7 linked regions of the Homo sapiens genome follow. The protein of the gene in region 2 purifies or fractionates together with the protein of the main gene of each other region. This does not show direct contact. Each region holds a gene or a part of one and is shown on either strand. Other genes may lie near its edges.

Region 1 (3,500 bases), on a different chromosome or scaffold from region 2:
CACAACAACAAGTTTAAATTCCAGCCCATAAAACTGAACTCCGCAAAGGGATTACTTTCTGTTTTTTGATTTGATTGTTTTTGAGACAGAGTCTTGCTCTTGTCCCTCAGGCTGGAGTGCAATGGCACAATCTCGGCTCACTGCAATCTCCGCTTCCCGGGTTCAAGTGATTCTCCTGCCTCAGACTCCCGAGTAGCCGGGATTACAGGCGCCCGCCACCACGACCGGCTAATTTTTGTATTTTTAGTAGAGACGGGGTTTCGCCATGTTGGCCAAGCTGGATGGAGAAACCCCATCTCTATTACTCTCATTTGTGGTTCAAGAGTTAATATTTAGTTTTACCCAAACAAAAATCTTGGTTCCCCAAATTCTGGACATAGCCAAGAAGAAACACTAGTAAATATATAAAAGACTGGCACGGTGGCTCACGCCTGTAATCCCAGCACTTTGGGAGGCCGAGCGGGTGGATCACTAGGTCAGGAGTTCAAGACCAGCCTGGCCAACATAGTGAAACCCCGTCTCTACTACAAATACAAATTAGCTCCTCATCTCTACTAAAAATACAAAAAATTAGCTGGCCATGGTGGCGGGTGCCTGTAACCCCAGCTACTCGGGAGTCTGCGGCAGGAGAATCGCTTGAACTCGGGAGACAGAGGTTGCAGTGAGCCAAGATCGTGCCACTGCACTCCAGCCCGGGTAACAGTGCAAGACTCCATCTCAAAAAAAAAAAAAAAAAAAAGACTGGAAGTATTAAATGGAGAAAAAAAAGAGGTGAGTACATAAAATTACACTGGGTTTGGAGACTGGAGGCTAGAGAAATCAGGATGAAGAACCATGCTTTGATGCTCCAACCATCGGGATCTCAGTAAGTGGTTTCTAATTCCAAAGCATGGTAGAGACATACATTGACAACAAAATGCTCAACAACAGAATTCTCTGAAAGAAGGGCACAATCTCATTTCAAACATTTGGCATCCTCTTAAGTTGCAGGCACTCTGAACCATATGCACACCCTATCCTCAAGGAATTTACTGTCTATCTAGTAGGGGAGATCTGCCTATAAATATATATTCATACAAAATTATACACAACTAGCATTTATTTGCTTACTGTGTACTAGACATTGTTCTAAGATTGTTGCATACTACATATATTAATTTATCCCATAGGACTGTTCTACTAATATCCCAACTGTGCAGATGTGGCACAGACAGGTTTAAGTGATGTATCCTGGGATACACAATTAGTAACTGGACATATTGGATTAGAAACTCAGGCAGTAGGCCAGGCTCGGTGGCTCACGCCTGTAATCCCAGCACTTTTGGAGGCCAAGGCAGGCTGATCACCTGAGGTCAGGAGTTCGAGACAAGCCTGACCAACATGGAGAAACCTTGTCTCTACTAAAAATACAAAATTAGCCAGGTGTGGTGGTGCACACCTGTAGTCCCAGCCACTCGGGAGGCTGAGGGGTAACAAGAGCGAAACTCCGTCTTAAAAAAAAAAAAAAAAAGAAAGAAAGAAAGAAAGAAAGAAACCCAGATTACAAGGGACCTTATGCCCTTGCTAAAAGGTCTCAAATATACCGTATCTGTTGGTGGTTCCCAGCTGGAAATATATACACCTACCAGGCTCCTGAGTGGGGTAGAGAGCATCTCCACTGTTGAGGATGATTGCCATTATAAGCCTTTGTTGTTTTCCTCCCGAGACAGGGTCTTGTTCTGTCACCCAGATTGGAGTGCAGGTACATGATCATAAGCTCACTGCAGCCTCGAACTCCTGGGCTCAAACAATCCTCCCACCCGCAGCCTCTAGGGCTAGGGCTGCAGGCGTGGGCCACCAGGCCCAGCTTAGTTACTTACTTATTTATTTAGAGATAGGGTCTCACCCAAGCTGGAGTGCAGTGGCACGATCACGGCTCACAGCCAACCTCTGCCTCCCAGGCTAAAGGAATCCTCCCACCTCAGCTGGGACCACAGGCATGTATCACCACACCCAGCTAATTTTTTATATTTTTTGTAGAGATGGGGTTTTGCTACGTTGCCCAGGCTGGTCTCGAACTCCTAGGCTCAAGAGATCCGCCTGCCTCAGCCTCCCAAAGTACTGGGATTACAGGCGTGAGCCACTGTGCCTGGCAATTTTTTTAATAGTTTTTGTAGAGACAGGGTCTCGCCATGTTGCCCAGGCTGGTCTAGAACTCCTGCGCTCAAAAGATTCATCCTCCTTGGCCTCCTACAGTGCTAGGATTACAGGCGTGAGCCACCACAGCCCAGCTGCCTTTTTTACTTTTGAGAGGGCATCCTATCTATCCTCCAGATGTTGAGGGTAAAACAAAACAAAAACAAACCAAAAAAACCATCCTGCTGTTATATAGATGACAGGGAGTTAATGGGCTCACAGGCAGACAACTCCAAAAACTACTCACAAGGAAGGAAATGCAGCTGTGAGTTCAGTCATACTATTTGAGAAGGTGCTCATCTCTCTCTCTTAAATGTGAAGCTCAGTGCTAGCTAGACAGGTAGGCTCAAAGCCCCATTACATCTCTTGGCCTTTCCCCTAGCGCCACCACCAAATTTCTAATTTCCATACATGCTATGTGCTTCAACTGTAAATAGTTTTCTTTTACAAACTCAGATACCTCTTGGCAGGTTAACACTGTTCAACATACCACTCTGGACAACCACAGCCTCTGCACCCTCTCTACTTTCTTTTTTTTTTTTTTAATTTTTATTTTTTGAGATGGAGTCTTGCTCTGTCACCCAGGCTGGGGTGCAGTGGCACTATCTCGGCTCACTGCAACCACCGCCTCCCAGGTTCAAGCAATTCTCCTGCCTCAGTCTCCCGAGTAGCTGGGATTACAGCCATGCACCACTATGCGTGGCTAATTTTTGTATTTTTAGTAGAAATGCGGTTTCGCCATGTTGCCCAGGCTGGTCTCAACATCAAGTGATCCACCCCCCTCCGCCTCCCAAAAGGCTGGGATTACAGGAGTGTGCCACCACACCTGGTCCACTGCTTTCAAAATAACTATATTTACAAGGGTATTTCCCCCATTTGCATTTCCCACACGTAGGTTTTGAGAAGAGATCAAGAATGCCCTTTACCACATTTTACCTGTCCTTTTTTCCCCTTTCAAACAAACTGGTCTAGGGGCCAAGCACAGAGGCTCAAGCCTGTAATCCCAGCACTTTGGGAGGCCAAGGCAGGCAGATCACTTAAGGTCAGGAGTTTGAGACCAGCCTGGCCAACATGGTAAAACCCAGTCTCTTCTAAAATACAAAAATCAGCCAGGCGTAGTGGTGCATGCGCTCCTCGGAAGGCAAAGGCAGAAGAATCACTTCAACCTGGGAGGCAGAGGGTGCAGTGAGCCGAGATCGCGCCACTGCACTCCAGCAGCCAGGGTGACAGAGCGAGACACCATCTCATTAAAAAAAAAAAAAAAAAAAAAAACAAAAAACCTGATCTGTATCAGTGCAAAGTTTGCCTATGTTGAATCACTGGGT
Region 2 (4,131 bases):
GACCTGCCACGCCCACAGTGAGCCTTCGCACCTTTATTTCCTTTCATCAGGAATGCCTTCCATCTGCCAACAACCAAGGTCAATGTCCAGTTCAGCTACCTCCAATAAAGCCATCTCTAGTCTCCCCACCTAAAGGAATTGTTCCCTTCTTGAACTGTTGCAAGCACGTTCTATTCTTCACATAGGAATCACTCATGCACCCCAATATTTGCAGTTAATGGTCCTCGAGGGCAGAACATCAGAGAATTCCAGGGTTGGAGGGAGAATTTATCTCCTGGTCCTTGACTATTTTCCAATGACCTGTGCATCCCTGCTGAGAGAGGACTTGCTGCCTTTCCAAACAGCCCATTCCATCTCTGAGCACCTGTTAGAACATTCTTCCTGAGACCGAAATGAAAACCAGACTGGCCTCTGCCTTGGTTCAGGCCCTGGGGACCTCCTGAAAATCTCAGCTCCCTCATAATGCCCAGGGCAGCCTCCTGAGACCAAACGCAGCCATGTGGACTTCTGGAGTCTGCTCTGCTCCTGGTTGTAGCTTACATTTGGTCACTGTTGTTTGTGCGAATCCTTGGGCTGAATTCAGAGTGGATGATGAGTTGAATGTTGGTTGTGAGAATAATTGTGCATGTGTGTTGGGGGGCAGGGGTGGTAGGGGCTGGGGTACTGGAGAACATGAGGAAGAACTTGAAAGCAAGGTGGGATCCAGCCCTGCCACATCTGTGCTTTGTGCAGGCCATTCTACCTGTCTGCCCTGGGAGCCTGACCCTATTCCCCAGGGACACAGGCTACTGGATTTCTGCCCAAGTTGCTCAGGCTTTCCATGGCTGCTCTGTCACCACCTTCTGATTGCAGCAACCTCAAGCCTAAAAGAGACTCCTCACTATTAAGACAGGGGCGCTGTGGCATCAGAAACTAGACCCAGTATCACAAGACTCCCTGTCCTTTGGCGTTCATGAGAGCAAGGGATCTATTCTATTTATCCCAGAATCCTCAATAGTGTTCCAGCACAGTTCAGCCAGGGATGGTCAGCACTCAACAAAGTCTGTCTGCTCTCCATACAGCTAGCATGTCCTGCAGCTTGCCTTAGTGTAGTGCTTTGCTAGGTGTTAGGAACACACATCTGCATAGTGCAAAGGCTTTCCTGTCAAGGGAGGGAAGGAGGCAAGCAAACATATGCAGACAATACAGTGTGGTCAGTCCTATTTAACAATGAGGCAACACTTCACAGGTCAGGGTCATTTTCACATACAGTATCTCATTCAGTCTTCCCAAGTGCCCTGTGAGGCAGGGAGCGTCTTCCCCATTTCACATGAGGAAGGCCTGGAACTCAAACCCCAGTCTTCTCCCAAACTCCATCTAATACCTCAGACCTTCCTGCCCCACCCTCCAGTCCAGGAAACTCCTCACTCTCTACCAGTATCCCCGGCCCCTGCCACCTCTATTTCCCCTGGGTCTGTATTTCCCCTAAGGGGTGATGGGTCAAGATTCAAGGACAAAATCCTGTGGGTTGTTTCCTGGAGGGGGCGGACTAGGCCGCTTGCCCAGCCCCCAGAGGCGCACCAGTGGGTTCTGGAGGACAGGGACGGCAGGACTTCCCACCTACCTGGGGCATAGTTCAGCACCCTCACATTAGGTTCCTCCAGCGCCAGGACCTGGAACAGCATATCACGAGCAGCCTTTCCTGCACAGTACAGCGCCCAGCCTTTGAAAGGTTGCAGGGCACAGAGGGACGAGATGTTAACCACGGTTCTGTTGAGGCCAGGACTGTCCGGGAAGGCCTTCAGGACGCTGGAAGTCAGGCAGAGCATGGAGGTCAAGTTCAGTGCCCAGTAGTTGTTCACTTGAGTGGAGTCACTCAGGTCCACGAAGCCTTTGGACACATCCCCAAGAGAGCCTGAAAAACCAACCCTTAGGAGTAACTCAGTGCAGGCGGGGCTTTCTTCTTCCCCAGCCCTCCCAAGTTCCTCCAGATATCCTCTTCCCATGCAGACCTAGAGGAGGAAGCTGCCTAGCGCTTCTGAAGAGGCTTCTCTCTTCCCCAGCTCTGCGGAAAGACACAGCTGGGGAACCTAGCCATCCCAAGCTGCAGAATGAGAAGGCACCTGCCTTGCCGTGGGGCTGAAGGAAAGCTCTAGCGGTCCTTTGGAGAAGCAGAGAGTTTACTTGTTTGGAGACTCCAAGCCCTGACTCAGGCCTCCGCCAGAGGGCGCAGAGCAAGGGGCTCGGGAAAGTTCTACAGGCGCTTTGGAAAACCCGGCTGGCCAATTTTCCAGGAAGTGGGGGCAGACTGTTGTCCCGACGGCACCGAGTCTTCCTGTACACCTCGCCTCCACTTGCTACTCAAGCTGGAACAACTAGGGCTTTAGATTTCTAGGCGTCCTATCTGACCCCTAGGAGTAGCCCTTAAATTCCCCAGCGGTGGAGGAAGTGGGCGCTCACATGGGGAGTCCGCTCCAGCCCCGGGGTCTTACCCGCGTTGTTGATAAGCAGCAGTCGCTGCAGCCCCTTGGGCCGGGGGAGCTCGCGCAGGGCGCCGAGCAGCTGCTGCAAGCCGGCCTCGGCGCCCAGGTCGGCGGGCACCCGCACCACGCGCAGGCCAGACCGCTCGGCGCCCAGCTCGGCCTCCAGCTGGCGCAGTGCCTCGTCGTTGCGGGCGCTAAGGACAAGCACGGAGCCGGGCGACAGCAGCGAGGCCAGGAGCGGGGCCAGCGTCCGGCCGAAGCCGCGGGAGGCCCCGGTCAGCAAGCACACAGCACGCCCCAGCCCGCCCTCCATGCTCCTGTTCTCCGCCGGCGGCGCTGGCACCCGAGACCAGGCAGGAGGCGGTGCGGCCGCGGGGGGCGGGACCGCTACGGGTGTCGGCGGGGCCGCCCTGCCGGGGCGGGGCGGGAACCTCAGGCTTCGGGCCGCGAGCGCCCAGGGGTGCTGGTTCCCTTGGGATCTGGTTCCCTTGGTTGCTGGTGGCGGAAGTCAAACCGTGGCGGTAGCCCAGTCCGTGCCAAGTGGGACAACAGAGAGGGCCGGCAGGCGCGGCCCACACGGAAAGCCCTAGCCCGGTTCCCAGCGCTGCCGTGTTCTTCGCCCGCAAGCTCAGCCTCCGGCTGGGACGCATGCTCGAATTTCCTCCCAGTTCCAGCCCTAACTTTGCACTACTGACCTCTTCCAGGGCAGGCCCTGCACTGGGTGCTGGGCGTCCCTGGTCGTGGCCAGTGAACACCCTGAATGAAGCTTATGCCTGTTTAGGAATTGAAGTCTCTGCTTGTTTGGGAGCTCACCGCTCTCTGGATGACAGGAGCTTCCTCTGGGAGAACCACAGTGGCTCCAAATGATATTAAAACCTTTCCCTTTTACTAGGCCCTGAGCAGCTCCGTGATCCCACCAGTAACCCCTGCTTCTCTGAGATTTCTGACTCCTGTCCCTAAAAGTGTGTTCCCCAGGATTCTGCTCCTGCTCATGCTACAGTCTCCCTGGCAGCAATTCCATCCACTTTCAGCTTCAAGTTTGCGCAATCATCTGTCTGTACCTCCAGGCAGGTGCTTCAGAAAAATCCACATTTTTTTTTTTCTAGGAGAGGAGGAACGTGAGACAAGTTGGCATGCAGCTACATATATTAAAAAGGAATCTCTTCATGGTTTCCTTCTTAGTGGCCGAGTGGTATTCCATTGTGTATATACATATGTCCAAATATTGTGTGTCAGTTTTTAAAAAACGAATCTCTTTAGAGTTTAGCAAGGGCAGTAAGTAACCTCTGATAACTTAGCCCAATTCCCCACAGGGCTGATCCCTCCCCTGGGGCTAAACAGCAAAGTTACCGCCTTTCCACTATTATTGCCAACTCTAAGGAAGAAACAACTTGGAGGAAGGCTTTTTTCTTTTCTTTTTTCTTTTTTTTGACAGAGTCTCGCTCTGTGGCCCAAACTGAAGTGCAGAGGTGTGATCACAGTTTACTGCAGCCTTGAATTCTTGGGCTCAAGCAATCCTTCCACCTCAGGCTCCTGAGTAGCTAGGATTACAGGTGCGCACCACCACGCCTGGCTAATTGTTTTTTAAGCTTTTGGTATTTTAACGCTGATAAGACTCTGTATATGTGTATACCATTTGAAGTTGCCCTGCTTTTCACTTACCTATTCA
Region 3 (4,031 bases), on a different chromosome or scaffold from region 2:
CCTCTCCTGCAAGCAGGACACCACAAAGCTTCCAGGCCAAGGCCAGGATGTGGGGCGGCTCAGCACTGACTCACAAGGGTCCCTTCCCATCTGGCAGCCTCTGAGTCTGAACCTTTTCTCAAAACTGTCACAACAGCCTCACAGGGGGAGGTTTATTCTTCCATGGGCTGAGACCCGTGGCTGCGGTTGAGGAAAGACATCCTGCTGGGGCTTGGCACTGAGCTAGGTCCTCCCTCATACTACGCACACGCCCAGAAGGGGCAGGGTCTTGCTGGAGGTCACAGAGCAAGGTTGTGGCAGGGCTGGAGAACCCAGGGCCTTGGATGCACTTCCCCACACCCACAGTCTCCACACCGCGGTCTTTGCCCTCCTAGGGTCCCCCGCCAAGGGGTTCACAGCAGGAGGGAGGGGCAGTGCCTGTGCCAGAGCAAGCTATCTGCCCGCTCGGGCCTGGTATCGCAGGAAACGCCCTCAGAACCCAGACAGCACTGCAGAGCAGCCAGGAGCCAGCAGCACAGGCTGAGGGGCCCACAGGGCCAAGCCACCCTCAAGTCCCCTGCCCACCCAGTGTGCACCTGCAGCATCCAGGATCCTCTTGTCCACGTGGTCGGAGAGGAGGCAGAGCAGGCCGTGGGCCCCCGCCACACCTCGCTCTAGCTCCTTGGCAGGGATGGGCTCATCCGAGTCCCACTGCTCCACCTCACAGCTGCGGGGAAAGGGAGGCCCTCAGGAGAAGCAGGAGCCGCACACCTGTCCCCGCCCCTCCCAGCTGGGAATCCTGGCCTCTGATGGCCCTGGCCTCAGGCTGCCCGGGGCTGGCTGAGGGGAGGCAGGGTCAGGCAGGGGTGGTCTCAGAACTGTCCCGAGACAGCAGGTGACAGGTGAAGGGCTGAGGGGCCCCCCAGCAGAGCCTAAGCTGCAAGGGGGAAGGCATGGGGACAGCTCTCAGGTCAGCACAGAGAAGAGCTTTCCCACATTCACAGGGGCTGGGCGGCCAAGCAGGCGGCCAACTGCAGGGAAGGCCCGTGGGGGGCAGGGTGTGCCTCAGGTGGGGGGCCTGGATTCAATGGCCTGTTGCATCTCTTCCTGTCCGTGGAGTCCATGAAATAGAAAACTCTCATAGTTGGACTGGGCCAGGAAAGATAAGGTCAAGGCCACCCAACGCTTCCACGGCAGCTCACAGCAACCAGATATTTGTCCCAGTGATGCACGGTGCCTCCTGGCCCTTGCCATGGAATTCAGTACAGTCAGCACGTGTGGAGCCTCTATGTGGCAGGACACAGGATAGCTACTTGCACCTCCTGACTGAGCCCAGGGCACTGACCACCTTTCATCCACCTCCCCATGAGCAGGGTACAGCGTGAGCTACTGTTACCATGGGCGCGGTTGCTGCCTTCCACCTTCTCCTGCTCAGTACAAAGTGGGTCCTTGGCAAAGGTTTTGTTGCAGTGAACAAAATTTGAAAATCTCATATGCCCCTAGAACTGGCTGCTGAGGCTGGATTGCATCCTCTTCCTATCTAACATTGGAAACACAAACCTGATCAAATGCAGTGATCAGACAGCAGTCAGACACTTCTGAGTACAAGCCCCAGCTCCTCCACCTGGGAGCTGCATGGCTTTGGGAAGAAACTTAACCCTAAGTCCAGCCTCCAGTTTTTAATCTGTGCAATGGGAATTATAATACTGACTTCACAGTGCTACCAGGATTAAAAGTTTATGTATATGAAGCACCTGGCAAGGTTGGCCCACAAAAAGGGTTCCATTTAGCAAGGGTGGGCCAGGTGCAGTGGTTCATGCCTGTAATCCCAGCACTTTGGGAGGCTGAGGTGGGAGGATCCCTTCGTACAGGAGTTCAGGACCAGCCTGGGCAACACAGTGAGACCCTCGTCTTTGAAAAAAATAAAAAATTAGCCAGGCATGGTAGTGCATGCCTGTAGTAGTCCCAGCTACTTGGGAGGCTGAGGTGGAAGTATCTCTTGAGTCCAGGAGGTTGAGGCTGCAGTGAGGTATAATGGTGCCACTGCACTCCAGCCTGGATGAGAGTGAGACCCTGTCTTAAAAATTAAAGGGTCCTCAGGCCAGTCATGGTGACTAACACCTGTAATCCCAACACTTTGGGAGGCTGAGGCAAGAGGATTGCTTGAGCCCAGGAATTTGAGACCAGCCTGAGCAACAGAGTGAGACCCCCATCTCTACAAAAAAAAAATCAGAAAATTAGCCGGTAGTGATTGTTTGCGCCTGTAGTCCCAGCTACTCGGGAGGCTCAGGTGGGAGAACTGATTGGGCCCAAGAAGTCGAGGCTGCAGTAAGCCACGATCGATCGAGCCACTGCACTCCAGCCTGTGCAGCAGAGTGAGACTGTCTCAAAAAAAAAAAAAAAAAGATAAGTAAATATAAAGAAGAAGAGTCATCAAAGCCCCCTGCCAAACGTCCAAGGGCCTGGTCAGTGACCGCCATGTCCCTGACCCCACATGTCCTGTGGGAGCGTGGAGAATTAGCCTGGACCTTGCCTCAGGGGCAATCTCCCCTCTCCAAAGCCGGAACTGCAGGTCCCAGCGTCGTCTTAAGAGGAGAACTGGGCCCCAGAGAACTTTCTCCGAGACTCCCCAAAACTCCAAGCCTGCCCCAGCCGGCCACAAGGCCCAAACGCCCCGCCCGGCTCTCCGGTCCCTGGGACCGCCCTGCTCCCTCCTCCACGGCGCGCGAGGCTCTTACTCTGCCGCCCGGGCGAGCGCGACCCTACCCTCGGCGGGTATCCTGCGGGTGACGAACACCTTCATGAGTCGCACCGGTCTCATCCGCAGTGCAGCCGCCGACCCGGACCTGGCAGTACAGAAGCTGGCCCGGGAATGTAGCTGGGCCGGGGCGGGGCCAGGCTGGAGTGGGCGGGAGAGACGTCGCGCGCGGCGTGCGCAGGGGGTGTGGCTTCGCGAGAGGGAGCGCCGGGTTGCGGCTGAGCGGTGACTGTGCGTGCTCGGGGAGTGACAGTAACAGTGACCCTACACAGTGTCCTTGTGTGTGTGTGGGGGGGTGCGCCTCGTGCCACTGGGGAATCAGGGCCCCGGGGGAGAGGGGGCAGTATCCCGTCCAAGGCCTCATGGGAGCCCTGCTTTTTCTACACGCTCAGGGTCCTGTTTCCACAGGCTCAGGCCTTAAGAGACTGAAAGCCCCCACTTTTTCTGTCTCTTGGGTTGGCCCAGGGTAGAAACCCAGGTTCCAGGCTGTGAGGAAGTCCAGGACACACAGAGAGGTCACGTGTAGGTGTTCAGGCCAACAGCACAGCCAGGGGCCCGGCTCACAGCCACCGTCAATGACCAGAGGTATGAGTGAGGAAGCCTTCGGGTGACTCCAGGCCAACTCCCACCTGACTACAGCTAAAACTGCAAGAAAGAGCCTTTAGGAGAATCACTGGCTGAGCCCAGTCAACCCCGGAACCATAAGAGATGATAATGCACTGACTGCTGTTGCTCTAAGCCGTTCAATTTTGGAGTAATTCTTTATGCAGCAATAAATAAGTGATACGCTATGTGTGCGAAAGCCAGAAGCCATAAGAGTACAACTAATTCTCCATTGAAAAATTAACCGTACCATCCTGAATGCATCTGATCTTGGAAACTAAGCCTGGTTAGGGCTTGTATGGGAGACTGCCTGGAAATACCAGGTGCCTGGAAATACCAGGCTTATGTTTATCTTAAAAAAAAAAAATTAACAAAATCATAAGACAACAAACCGGGAAAAATACCATATATTTGCAACTCATTTTATAGACAAGGGGTTGATTTACTTATTGCACAAATAGTTCCTAAGACAAAGATGCCCAGCTTATCTGAATAAGCAAAGGATATCAATGGACAGTTTATAGAAAAGAAAATGGCCTTTAAATGTATGGCTGGGCGCGGTGGCTCATGCCTGTAATCCCAGCACTTTCGGAGGCCGAGGCAGGCGGATCACTTGAGGTCAGAAGTTTGAGACCAGCCTGGCCAACATGGTGAAACTCTGTCTGTACTGAATATACAAACATTAGGTGGG
Region 4 (2,449 bases), on a different chromosome or scaffold from region 2:
CACTCCTGCTCATTCCCCAGCTCTCCACGTTTCCTCACCACTGCAACCCCCACCCTCACCACTCCAACACAGACCACCTCACCCCAAGCCCGCCTGAGGGACCTCTCACCTGGAGACAGCTTCACTTGCCAGGACTGATGGCTGTGCCAGCAGCCAGCCCCACCCTCTCAGTGACTGAGAAGCTGTTCCAACTGTAGAGGCAGACCCAGCCAAAGGCAGCAGGCAGGATTAGCCAATTCCATTGACTAGAAAGGGCCTTACTTCCCTGTGGACACTGCCTACATAGTCTGCATTCAGCTGTGAGGTCCTGTCCCCTCTCAATTCCAACCTACACCACCCCCCAAAGCAAGTGAGAATGAGGATGGGGAGGAAACTCAAGACAGGGGTTAGCACTGCAACCTCTCATCTCTGCCCTCCTTCCTGTATCACTCACTGCACTTTGCCCAGTATTCCTCCCTTCCCCACAGTGGCACAGTGGCCCCAGACACAGCCAGAGTCCATTCAAAAATGACAAATTCTTTATTTAAATCAACAAACTCATCTTCCTCAAGCCCCAGACCATGGTAGGCAGCCCTCCCTCTCCATCCCCTCACCCCACCCCTTAGCCACAGTGAAGGGAATGGAAAATGAGAAGCCACGAGGGCCCCTGCCAGGGAAGGCTGCCCCAGATGTGTGGTGAGCACAGTCAGTGCAGCTGTGGCTGGGGCAGCAGCTGCCACAGGCTCCTCCCTATAAATTAAGTTCCTGCAGCCACAGCTGTGGGAGAAGCATACTTGTAGAAGCAAGGCCAGTCCAGCATCAGAAGGCAGAGGCAGCATCAGTGACTCCCAGCCATGGAATGAACGGAGGACACAGAGCTCAGAGACAGAACAGGCCAGGGGGAAGAAGGAGAGACAGAATAGGCCAGGGCATGGCGGTGAGGGACTGAGGCCCCTAAATTTTGGTCCCAGGGGAAAGGAAGAGGCCAGTTGGTCCAGTTTTGATGGCTATGGGGAAGGGAATGTATTAGTAAGCATGGGGGAGAGGATGCCAGCAGGCACCTCAGAGGTGACAGGACAGGCTGAACCCCCCACCCTGACAGAAAGGAGCTTGAGAGCTCTGGGGCTCTCTGGGAATGTCACTGCTAAAATATATATCTACATATATATTAACCATTCGTGGGAGGGCAGGGGCAAGGCCTGGGGTGGGATCAGAGGATCTGGCGTGGCATCCCGTAGCCAGTCATGCCTGCCTGAGACGCCCCGCGGTTGGTGCCCATCTGTAACCCGATCACGTTCTTGCCCTCTTGCAGCTGGTTATCCGAGAAGTTCCGAGGATTCTCCTTGGATTTCCTGGGTGACAAGGGAGTGGTGGTTAGAGGAGATCACAGGCTGCCCTAGTAAATCCCTTCCTTGGACAGAGCACAGGCTTTGCTGTTGGCTCAAGGGCTGGTGCCAGCTCTGCCCTCGAGAGCCATAAGCTCTCTGAAGCCACCTCCTCATCTGTCCAAAGGGACAGTCATTTGCCATCCCAGAGGGTGTTGTGAGGATTAAGTGAGATGAGGAATTTTCTGAAAGTGCTTTGTAAAGGGCCAGCTGCTACTGAGATAAGTTATTTCCTAGGGACAGGATTGGGCAGAAACAATGCACCTGCTGGACCCTGCGGCTGTCCCAGCAATACTTACTTAGGGAACCAGTTGGGATCCCCAGAGAAGAGCCCATCATCTCGGGCTACTGCCAGCCCACCCAGATTCATCAGCGTCCGCTGCACACAGGCCATGTTCTTTCCTGGGAAGGAGAATGGGAATGTGTCAGCCTCCGCAGTGTCCTAGATACCAGGGTTCCGCCTCTATCGCTAAGTCAGCAGGCCTGGCTTCCTAATTATTTCTACTGTTCATTTCCATACCCTTCTCCATTCCAGCCTCCAATATGACCAAGTGCTCCATGGAACACAAACACACCCCTCTTTCTCTGCAGGGAGCCAGAAAACAGCCCCTTCTGCCTGGTCAAGAGGGCCCAGCCCAATCTCTGGCCTCCTGGATGACAGGACCCAGCCCCTCGCCCTGTCCCACCTTCCCAGAGGTCCACAGTTTGGAAGATGTCAGTGGTGTTAATGCCATAGCGCTCAGCTGCTTGCAGGAACTGAGAGATCTGCTCCATCTGCTTGAAGGCCATGGTGGAGGCCTGGATCTTCTTTACTGGGGCCTGCCCCTCGGGGTACAGTGCATTAATGAGCTCACATAGCACCTGGATGAGGACAGCAGGGGTGGAAAGGTGAGAATATGCCTACCTATCGCAGCTCAGCGTGCACCACCCTCAGAACCAGAGACAATGAACCAGAGAGGCTCCTGTCTTGCCTGAAGACAGCTTGGACTCTTTCACTAGAGTAAGCCTCACAGTCCTTCTTGCCAGCCTCCTTCCTCCGAGCCCAGAGTGAAAAGCCAGTGTTTAGTCTTTCCTTGCTAATATAC
Region 5 (3,500 bases), on a different chromosome or scaffold from region 2:
CATGAGCCACTGTGCCCAGCCTGATTTAAATCTTAAGAAGATTGGGCCAGGCGTGGTAGCTCAGTCCTGTTGTCCCAGCACTCTGAGAGGCCGAGGCAGGCGAATCACCTGAGGTCAGGAGTTCGAGACAAGCCTGGCCAACATGGCGAAACCCCATCTCTACTAAAAATACAAAAATTAGCTAGGTGTGGTGGCAGGCGCCTGTAATCCCGGCTACTCAGGAAGCTGAGGCAGGAGATTCGCTTGAACCGGGGAGGTGGAGGTTGCAGTGAGCCGAGATGGCGCCATCGCACTCCAGCCTGGGAGACAAGCGAAACTCCATCTCAAAAAAAAAAAAAAAAAAAAAAGAAATCTTAAGAAGATTGATCTTAATGAAGCAATTGGGATTTGTCATCTCAGCCATTCCAGAGAAATACGGAAGAGTCGTGGTGGATGGCCAGAATTGCCTGTCCTGACAGACTGTTCTTTTCATAAATTATAACAAGAGGGCATACATATATTTTCAATGCTTTAAAATCTCAAACAAACAGAAGCAGAGAGATCATTAAAGTGAACCCCCATGTACTTAATATTACCAACATATTGCTATTGACTGTATTTTTTCTTGGCTCATGATTTTTCTTACAATTTTTCGTTGGCATTTTTTTCAGAGTTGCAGTTAAAGGGATTTTTGGATTGGGGTGGGGAAAACAGGGTTGATCTTCTTTTTGGATTATAATTCTGTGATTTGTGAAGAGAGTCTGGAAAGAAATACACCAGGATGTTAACTATGTGCAGGCAGTGAAGCTCTAGGTGCTTTTTTCTTTTTTTTTTAACCTTTCCCTACTTTTATTTATTAATTGTTGTATTTCAAGGGATGCTCATGTCTCTACCTTTCAGAATGTATACACAGAGACTCTAGATTGTTTTTTAAAAATCACACTGAAGTGTACTTGGGCTTCAATGTCTAAAATGCTCATCAGAGCTTAGTCTTCCGTCTAATTCTCAAAGCATTAATTGCCAGGTACTGTAAACTGGCTTAAAAAGAAGAGAAAAAGAAACTGAGTATCCGTAAAGATGCTAGCCTGTGTTGGCTTACCTTACAGTTTATACATTTTTTTGTTCTTGTGTTGAAGGTGACTGCTGAGGTTGGAAAGCTCTTGGGTGAAGAGAAGGTGGATGCAATTCTTTGCGTTGCTGGAGGATGGGCCGGGGGCAATGCCAAATCCAAGTGTGAGTCCTTTCCTGAGTCACTCATTTGTTCTGCTCTGCTCTTTTTCCAGCTGACAAGGATTGGGTTTGCACTAGGTGACAGGCCAGCTGTTTTTTTGTGTATATCCCGGAATCTTTACAGTTGCTCGGGGAGAGAGTGATTAATGCTCTTAATCCATTTTACGGATAAAGAAGAAGCTTCCCCTGGAGGACGTGAGGGGACGGGGGGCATTGAGTTTGAGTTTAAAGTAGAGGCAGAATGAAATCAGCATGGCCTGTGCCCCAGGCCATGTGCTATTCAGGCATTGGAGGATGTGTAGGAAGTGCAGAGATCATTTAGAAAGTCAGAAGAAGTCAAACTTGAGATTTTACTAAAGCTGATTCCTTTTTTCATCTTTTCTTTTCCCTTCCCTTCCCTCCCCTCCCCTCTACTCCCCTACCCTTTTTCTTAAGACAGAGTCTTGCTCTGTCACCAGGCTGGAGTGCAATGGTGTAATCTCGGCTCACTGCAACCTCTGCCTCCCAGGTTCAAGCGATTCTCCTGCCTCAGCCTCCCGAGTAGCTGATATTACAGGTGCCCACCACCAAGCCCAGCTAATTTTTTGTATTTTTAGTAGAGACGGGGTTTCACCATGTTGCCCAGGCTGGTCTTGAACTCCTGACCTCAGGTGATCCACCCCCTTCAGCCTCCCAAAGTGCTGGGGTTACGGGCGTGAGCCAGTGCGCCTGGCCCATTTTTCAACTTTTCATTATGAACATTTCTAAGCATACCAGAAAAGTTGAAAGAACAGTTCAATGAACACCCTTATATGCTCCATCTAGATTCAGTAACTGTTAACATTTGCTGTACTTGAGTTGAGCTTGTTTTCTTGTGCCTGTGTACTTTGTGCATTGTTTTTTGTTAACTGTTTGAAAATAAGTTTACACCTCACTATATTTCCGCGTGTTTCTCCAAAGAATAAGCCCGTCCTACATTATTATGGTACCATTGTACCTAAGAAAGTTAACAGTGATTATCTAAGATTAATGATATTGAGCCCATATTCAAATTTCCCCAGTTTATTCCATGTCTATTATAGTTCTTTTTCCCTAAACATATTCCACTCAAGGTTTATGTACTGCATTATGTTGTTTTTAGTCTCTTAATCTAGAAAATCTAGAATTTTTAAAAAAATCCCCTGTGATAAGACTTTTTGTCAAGTCCTTGGGAGTTTTCATATAGCATGTCTCACATTCTGAACTTGTCTGAACTTTTCTTTAAGGGGTTGTTTGACTTGTTCCTCTATCCTTGGTATTCCCCGTGAACTGGAATTTGGGTCTAGAGACTCAGTTAGATTTAGCATAAACATTCTTGTGGTGCGAATTCTTCCTGAGTGATGGTGTGTACCTTATATGACATCACCTGGGAAGCTCAGCATGGCAGCTTGCCCTACCCTTAGGGATGCCAAATTTGATGCTTGGTTGAGATGGCAACTGCCAGACTTCCATTATAAAGGTACTTTTTTTCTGTTTGCAGTAAGTCAGTCATCTGTGGGATGTGTGGTATTGTGGTATTGTGTGTGAATGTCCTGTTTCCCAAGTATTATACTTTTCACCCAGTGGTTTTAGTCCTTCGTTGATAATCTCTGCCTGAAGCACTTATTCAGGGGTTGGAAAATGGTAGTTTTCTAATTCTGTCATCCCTTCTACATTTATTAGCCAAAGCCATTTAAAAAGACGTTGACATTCTGTGACCCACATGTCAATGTGAGAGTGGTGCTTTGTGAGGTGATCAGGTTAGCAAAACAGCTTGATAACCTTTTTGTATGTTTTGGGAGCAAGAAATGATAAATGTGGATCCATCAGGTTTTTTTCCTAGTCTTTTTTAGTGGGGAAATGCAATTTCTTGTTTATCACCTACCAACCCCTCCTATATCAGGAGGACATCCTTTTTTGATCACCAGGTACCACATGCCCTTCGAGTTGCCCAGTTGGTGGTGTGACATATGTTACCATTTGTTCTTCCTTATGTCTCTGGCAAGGCCGGGGAGTTAAAACAAGTGTAAAATGGTTGTTATTTTAGCTTTCTTTTGAAGAGTCTTTAAAGCTAACATTAAACTTTCAGACATAAAATATGTAGCTCAGTAAAAGCTCTCTTTATAGCTGTACAGTAATAGGCCCTTGGATTTTTATCACAGAGAAAACCTGACGTAGACATATAGGTTCTTATTACAAATCTGATACCATTCATAAAATAAAACAATCTTTGAATTAAAGCCAGTCCAGCAAATCAGTAAACTCCAGGTTTATTTTGTAAAATTTATTGGCCA
Region 6 (3,500 bases), on a different chromosome or scaffold from region 2:
CACTCCGACCCTGACACTGGCCTCCCTCTCTGCATTTGGCAGAAGGTAAAGTGAACAAGAGTCCAGTCCAGCACCCCCGCCAACTAGCTGAGAGGCACAGTGACCCTAGGAGATGTCCAGCCAGCCTCCAGGCTGAGAGGGAAACAGGCACATGCCCTACCAGGGGGGCAGCTCCCTGGAAGGGCAGCAAAGAAAGCAGTCAAGGGCGCACACTGGGTCAGAAGGGGAGCCTGAGACTCTGGGAGCAGAAATGGCAAGGGTGGCCAAGCGTGCACTGGTTTACTGATCAAACCTCACGTGACAGGCCAGGAAACTCCTCCAGGCCTGTGGCAGCTGAACACAGTTCCTTGGTGGAGAGGTTTACTGGAACATGGTGTAGGCAGGGCTTATGAGGAGGCCAGCCTTGGAGGTGTCCCACATGGGTCTTCTGAAGAAAAGTTATACCACCCCTCCCCACAAAAAGAACCCCACAATCAAATTAAGAGACCCACTGTGGCCCATGATGGGGAGAGAAGAGTTCTGCAGCAATTGTGGGATGAGAGTTGTTCTTCCCGGTGACCAAGCCTGGGCACTTGGGGCCTCAGCTGGCCTACCAGTGAAGGCCTGAGGGTGGTGTCTTCTCATCTTTATTGCTTTCCAGGGAGAAGGGAGGAATCCGAACATCAAAGTGGGAGCCATCAGGTCTTTCAAAGCGGAACGTGCCCCTACAGTCAGAAAGAAGCTGGTTTAGAAGGAGCCAGGGCTGAGGCCTCCTAAGGATCTGGATGGCCCCATGCCCTCAGCTGCCAGCCACAGAGGACATGTGAGCCTGAGCTCTCTTCTATCTCTAGCTCATGACAGGATGACTGGTCCAGAGACCCAAGAGCCCCTCATGGTTATCCATGAAAAGAAAAACACAGCTGCAGTGGCTCACGCCTGAAATCCCAGCATTTTGGGAGGCTGATGCCAGCAGATCACCTGAGGTCACCTGAGGTGGGGAGTTTGAGACCAGCCTGACCAACATGGAGAAACCCCGTCTCCACTAAAAATACAAAATTAGCCGGGCGTGGTGGCGCATGCCTGTAATCCCAGCTACTCGGGAGGCTGAGGCAAGAGAATGGCTTGAACCTGGGAGGCGGAGGTTGCAGTGAGCCAAGATTGTGCCATTGCACTCCAGCCTGGGCAATAAGTGAAACTCCATCTCACAAAAGAAAAAAGGAAAACACAGCTGTCCAGATTCTGGCCTTTAGATACATACTGCATAAGCTAGCCAACTGCATTTTCAGGTAAAGGAGTGAAACACCAAGGGAAAAAACCCAACTATACAAGCAATTCTGCAGCATCAAATCACCAGACCTCTTTAGCCTAAGTCCTCAGTCCACAAATCACAGGGTACTGGGAAACAGGCGGTAATAGAAAATCAGACAAGTCCCACACAACAATATAGCAGATAAGGCTCCCTCTAAGAATGTAACTTGGCCCAGAGTTAATGGCAAGCTCTAAGCTCTCACTTTTCTGACCTACAGCTTCTGTTTGTGGAGCTGGGTGGCCCCTACTGCTGTGCACACTCACTCACCACATGTGCCCACTGGAAGCCTGCAGCGAGACGTGGCTGCTATACTGGAACGCAGGCTGCTCCTTGGATAACACTGGTTCCTGTAAAGGTTTAGGCAAAATGGGTCAGGCCAAGCCCCAGGGACATGTTTCCTGCACCCCAGGGTTACATGCTGACTGCCAGTTCATCAAGACTGGATGTCCCCTACCCAGCCACCACCACAGCAGGCACTCCCATAGCATGATACACTTCCTGCCAGTACCTCCTCCCATAGATGGCCATTTGGCTGGGCCTTTTATGCTGGCTCTGGGAAAGATAATCTCAGACTGAATGTCCGAAGGCACTGGGCAAAGGACCTCCTCTGCAGCCCGGGGAACACAGTGAGACCCCATCTCCACAAAAAAAAAAAAAAAAAAAAAAAAAATTTAAACTAACCAGGCATAGTGGTGTGTGCCTGTAGTCCTGCTACTCAGAAAGCTGAGGCGGAGGATTGCTTGAGCCCAGAAAAGTAAACTATGGTCGCACCACTGCACTCCAGCCTGGGTGACACAGCGAGACCCTGTCTCTAAAAACAAAGGACCTCCTGTGGAGATATCCCCTCCAGTGTCCATTCACACATGCTGGCGGGGACCACGGCAGGTACTCTGCAAACCTCTGCTGCTTTAATTCTCCTAATGATCATAAGATAACTGGTGTGATCCACATTTTAGGAGTAAGGAACTAAGATTTTGGTTAAATAACTTGCCGAAAGTTATGCTAATATATAACTCAGCTGGAATTTGAAGTGACTACCTAAATCCAAAGCCTTGTTCTTATTCACTTGCCCAACTGCCTCCCCAGTCCTCGCTGACTTTGATAAATGCTTGTTGAATGTGGCCCCTGACACCAGTACTGCTTGTGACTTTATTTCTCAGGAGACAGGGTTGGGTAGGCAGGGATTATAAAATCAGATCTCTTCAAGGACCAGCAGAGGATGTAAACATGTAAAGGGGCAAAGAGGCAAGACCACAGGGATTGGTGGGGGTGTGTGCCCCACCTAACGACATTCAAATTTTAGTTTTTAAAAGACACTATACCAGTTTTAAAAACTACACAAGTTTTGACTTCAGACTCACTTGGGTTTAAATTGAGGCCCTGCCACTACTAGCTATGGGACCATGGGCTGGTTATTTAACTTCTCAGTCTCACTCTTTTCATCTATGAAATGGGTTTCAAGAAACATATCTCATGTAGTTGTTTTAAGATTTCTAACCCAAAACAACACAATGTATTCACAAAGTGAGCCTCTGTCTATAACAACAAAGGAGAAGGAAGCCATGCGCTAAGCCCCCAGGCTTGCCACACAGGACCAGAATTACTAGACCAAGGATGCTCACCCTGCCCACTACCCCTCGGCCTCGCACTGTCTCCAAGGTGCCAGAGAGACTGAATATCCTCCAGTGCCGCTCCCGGAGCTGTACCACATCACTGTCAAGGTTCTCCAAACGGATACAGTAGCGCCACTGAGGTGGGTGTGGGAGAGAGAGTTTAAAAAAAATAAAATTTGGGTAACCCTCCTCAGAATTCTGTGCAAAGCAAAAGTCAACAAAGCTGACACATGCACTGCACAGGTTCCGCTCTCGTCAGAAGGTGGGCTCCCCCACCTCCACCCTGACCCCCAGGCACACCCCACAAGCTCCCCTTCTCCCAGACAGTGACACTCACCCAGTACACGTGGGAATTCTGGGCTTCCTAGGGAGAAAACAAAAAGAATTTAAGTCCCACAGGGCAAGACCAAGTGTGTTCCAATCAACATCTCTCCAGTGCAGTTGATGTATTCCAGGAAGGTTGCAGACAGACCAAGCTGAGAGTATCTGTGGGATAAGGGTGATAGCTGAACCATGGCCTACACACCCACAGGGAGGCAACATCCCTGTATCCACTCCTGGCCTCCCCACTCCTCATCCCTTCAAGATCACCAACAGAG
Region 7 (3,500 bases), on a different chromosome or scaffold from region 2:
TGAGGACTGAGGCAGATTTTAACCTTCTATTTATGCAACTTTCACTGAACAAAACTCTTAAGTGCTGTTATTTATATAGAGTTGAACTCTGTCAAATGTCTTTTCACTAGCTAGCTTAACAAAGGTTTTGCTTAAAATATTACATGTTAATATTGAAAACAGTTGGGCTTTTCTGACTTCATAAAAGTGGAAATTGAAAACCACATTCATCAGGAAATTAAATGTTTTATCCAGGCTTTAGCTTAATGAGAATTTATATTTTGAGAAAAGATTATTTACTACTAGTCATTTTTAAAATGTGTCTGTTTTTGATTCTTTTTGTCAGTTTTCCCCTTAAATCTTTACACAGATTCCCATCAGAGTACAGTAAAACAAAAATTAAATAGAATTCATATATTTGAAATCCTTGGCATCAATTCACTCCAGGAATCCAAGACAGTACTCAACTGAAGGGGAAGCAAGCACAAGGGAGATTTCTGGGACACTGATACTGTTCCGTTTCTTCATCTGAATGCTGCTTATGGGCCTTGTTCAATTTGTGAAAATTCATGACTTTGTACATTTATGGTATGTGATCTTTCCTGTTTATATATTATACTTTGATAAGAAGTTTTAAAAAAATGACCTGTTCCACCTGGATGGCAGTTAACATCCAACAGCTGCATATCTTTAATCTGGTAAATTAGGTATAGCTCTAATGATTACCCATGATTCTATGTGATAAACCAGTACTGTGATTCCCAAATCTTCGAGACAGAAGATTCAATAAACCATCTCTACCCCTTTCATTAACTTGGTCTAGGGCTGGTGTGCTATGGAGGAAATTTCAGTATTGTGAAGAATACTTTTTGAGCAAGTAGTAATATAACATTTGTTTTCCTTTGGTGTCATGGGCGAATTATATAACATGCTATTATATTTTCTTGCTCTTTCTTACTATTTTCTTGCAGAGTCTTGCTCTGTCACCAGGCTGGAGTGTAGTGGCACTATCCCAGTTCACTGCAACCTCTGCCCTCACAGGCTCAAACAATCCTCTCACCTCAGCCTCCCAAGTAGCTGGGACCATAGGCACACACCACCATGCCTGGCTATTTTTTTTGTATTTTTGGTAGAGATGGGGTTTCACCATGTTACCCAGGCTAGTCTCAAACCGCCTGCCTTGGCCTCCCAAAGTACTGGGATTACAGGTGTGAGCCACCGCACCTGGCTATATTTTCAACAAAAGCATTATAAGGAAACTGCCTAGAAACTACATTTTGAAAATCACAGCACAGTAGAAAAAAGGGGGCACCAATTTAAAAGAGGACATGGACATCTACTACTTCATTTTCTCTTACTCATCTGTTTGTCTATTTGCCTCTTTAAAGATATTAACTATATGTAAGATAAATATTCAGTGCCTTCTGTGTGCTAGAGGTGAGGATGTGAGGATGAATCTGGTATCTGCCTATATCAGAGAATGGCTATCTAGTTACTAAACCCATTTCCTCTATTTTGCTGGGCATACAGTTAATTTCCCAGACACCCTACAGTGAGGGGTGACTTATGACTGAATTGACAGCCAATGCAACAGAAGACTTGGTCCATGAAAACCTCCCATGCAATATCCCTTCCATGCTCTTTTCTACCTGCTGGATTGATCGAGCTGAGCATGCAACCTTGAAAAAAAAAGCCTTCAGGAGGGTAGAGTCACAAGATGGAAGGAGCATACATCATTACTTGCAGAGGGCCACTGGCTAACTGGGAACCTTTTTGGGACTGTATGGGACCAAGAAATAAATTTATTTCCTATTTGAGCCGTTAAACATTTCTGAGTTGTTTTGCTATGGCAACTGGCATTAACTAATATTGTGAACTTAAGGAGCTGACTGCTTTTTAAGGAGACACTTACCCCCCTCCACAAAACCACAATACAACTTAGTAAGTGCTATTATAGAATAAAATTTATACAAAAGCTGGAGAAGAGCAGTTAATTTTGCCCAGAAAGCGTTCTTGATATAAGTAACATGTGAACTGGGCTTTGAAGAATAAATAGATAAGAATTTACCAGGGAGACAAGTAGTGGAAAGGGGTGATATAAACAAAAACATAAACAGGCATAATATGCCCAGGAATATTTGTATATGGCTAAGTGTTTTTGTGAGGGGAGTGGGAACTAAGACCAGAAAAGTGGCCTGGGGTCAGACTGTGGTATGGTAAAGAGAATAAACATTATCTTGTATGCAGCGAGAGTCATTAAAGATTTCAAGTAGCACAATGAAGGATGGTAGGCTAAAGGGGAGAGCTGGAGACAGTAAGATAAAGGAGGAAGTACTGGTAGTGGATGTGAAGAAGGGATAGCACTGACAAATATGTGTGTGTGTGTCTGTGTGTATTTACCTATTTTTTTTTTAGAGATGGGTTTCTACTTTGTGGCCCAGGCTGGAGTACAGTGGCTATTTACAGGCTCCATCCCAGTACTGATCAGCATGGGAGTTCTGACCTGCTCTGTTTCCGATCTGGGCCAGTTCACCTCTCCTTAGGCAACCTGGTGGTCCCCAGCTCCTAAGGTCTGAGCGGTCACCATACTGACGCTGAATTTAACATGGACATGCAATTGGCATAGTACACTACAGCCAAGAACTCCTGGACTTAAGTGATCCTCCTGCCTCAGCCTCTTGTGTGGCTGGGACTACAGGCATGTGCCACTGTGCTCAGCTGACAAATATATTTTTTCCATAAGTTATTGGGGTACAGGTGGTATCTGGTTACATAAGTCCTTTAGTGGTGATCTGTGAGATTTTGGTGCACTCGTCGCCCGAGCAATATACACTGTACCCTATTTGTAGTCTTTTATCCCTCATCTCCCTCCCACCCTTCCCCCCAAGTCCCCAAAGTCCATTGTATTGTTCTTATGCCTTTGCATCCTCATAGCTTAGGTTCCACATATCAGTGAGAACAAACAATGTTTGGTTTTCCATTCCTGAGTTACTTCATTTAGAATAATAGTCTCCAATCTCAACCAGGTCACTACAAATGCCGTTAATTAATTCCTATTTTTTTTTTTTTTTTGAGAGGGAGTTTCACTCTTGTTGCCCAGGCTGGAGTGCAGTGGCACAATTTCGGCTCACTGCAACCTCTGCCTCCCAGATTCAAGCAATTCTCCTACCTCAGCCTCCCAAGTAGCTGGGATTACAGGCATGCACCACCATGCCCGGCTAATTTTTGTATTTTTTTAGTAGAGACAGGGTTTCATCATGTTGGCCAGGCTGGTCTCAAACTCCTGACCTCAGGTGATCCACCTGCCTTGGCCTCCCAAAGTGCTGGGATTACAGGTGTGAGCCACCATGCCTGGCCCCGTAATTCATTCCTTTTTATGGCTGAGTAGTATTCCATCATATATATATACCACAGTTTCTTTATCCACTCGTTGATGGATGGGCATTTGAGTTGGTTCCATGATTTTGCAATTGCAAACTGTGCTGCTATGAACATGTGTATGCAAATATCTTTTTTGTATA

The links.
Region 1: the proteins of SPR (region 2) and CLIC4 fractionate together in Homo sapiens (co-fractionation; one large-scale study listed by BioGRID). This does not show direct contact.
Region 3: the proteins of SPR (region 2) and GRHPR fractionate together in Homo sapiens (co-fractionation; one large-scale study listed by BioGRID). This does not show direct contact.
Region 4: the proteins of SPR (region 2) and TAGLN2 fractionate together in Homo sapiens (co-fractionation; one large-scale study listed by BioGRID). This does not show direct contact.
Region 5: the proteins of SPR (region 2) and QDPR fractionate together in Homo sapiens (co-fractionation; one large-scale study listed by BioGRID). This does not show direct contact.
Region 6: the proteins of SPR (region 2) and POLDIP2 fractionate together in Homo sapiens (co-fractionation; one large-scale study listed by BioGRID). This does not show direct contact.
Region 7: the proteins of SPR (region 2) and LACTB2 fractionate together in Homo sapiens (co-fractionation; one large-scale study listed by BioGRID). This does not show direct contact.

What each region holds. Positions count from the first base shown.
Region 1 is NC_000001.11:24,748,447-24,751,946, reverse strand, and holds part of CLIC4 (chloride intracellular channel protein 4), read right to left. Parts: intron 1-3,500. UniProt on the Homo sapiens protein: In the soluble state, catalyzes glutaredoxin-like thiol disulfide exchange reactions with reduced glutathione as electron donor. Can insert into membranes and form voltage-dependent multi-ion conductive channels.
Region 2 is NC_000002.12:72,886,077-72,890,207, reverse strand, and holds the start of SPR (sepiapterin reductase), read right to left. Parts: upstream 2,801-4,131; 5' UTR 2,776-2,800; coding exon 2,472-2,775; intron 1,895-2,471; coding exon 1,604-1,894; intron 1-1,603. UniProt on the Homo sapiens protein: Catalyzes the final one or two reductions in tetra-hydrobiopterin biosynthesis to form 5,6,7,8-tetrahydrobiopterin.
Region 3 is NC_000009.12:37,421,520-37,425,550, reverse strand, and holds the start of GRHPR (glyoxylate reductase/hydroxypyruvate reductase), read right to left. Parts: upstream 2,801-4,031; coding exon 2,718-2,800; intron 707-2,717; coding exon 576-706; intron 1-575. UniProt on the Homo sapiens protein: Enzyme with hydroxy-pyruvate reductase, glyoxylate reductase and D-glycerate dehydrogenase enzymatic activities. Reduces hydroxypyruvate to D-glycerate, glyoxylate to glycolate, oxidizes D-glycerate to hydroxypyruvate.
Region 4 is NC_000001.11:159,917,611-159,920,059, forward strand, and holds the end of TAGLN2 (transgelin-2), read right to left. Parts: intron 2,226-2,449; coding exon 2,051-2,225; intron 1,767-2,050; coding exon 1,664-1,766; intron 1,332-1,663; coding exon 1,190-1,331; 3' UTR 501-1,189; downstream 1-500.
Region 5 is NC_000004.12:17,502,091-17,505,590, reverse strand, and holds part of QDPR (dihydropteridine reductase), read left to right. Parts: intron 1-1,115; coding exon 1,116-1,212; intron 1,213-3,500. UniProt on the Homo sapiens protein: Catalyzes the conversion of quinonoid dihydrobiopterin into tetrahydrobiopterin.
Region 6 is NC_000017.11:28,347,528-28,351,027, forward strand, and holds part of POLDIP2 (polymerase delta-interacting protein 2), read right to left. Parts: intron 3,266-3,500; coding exon 3,239-3,265; intron 3,037-3,238; coding exon 2,911-3,036; intron 1,972-2,910; exon of another isoform or gene 1,636-1,971; coding exon 1,556-1,635; exon of another isoform or gene 1,506-1,555; intron 803-1,505; exon of another isoform or gene 705-802; coding exon 590-704; 3' UTR 1-589. UniProt on the Homo sapiens protein: Involved in DNA damage tolerance by regulating translesion synthesis (TLS) of templates carrying DNA damage lesions such as 8oxoG and abasic sites.
Region 7 is NC_000008.11:70,652,186-70,655,685, forward strand, and holds part of LACTB2 (endoribonuclease LACTB2), read right to left. Parts: intron 568-3,500; exon of another isoform or gene 326-567; intron 1-325.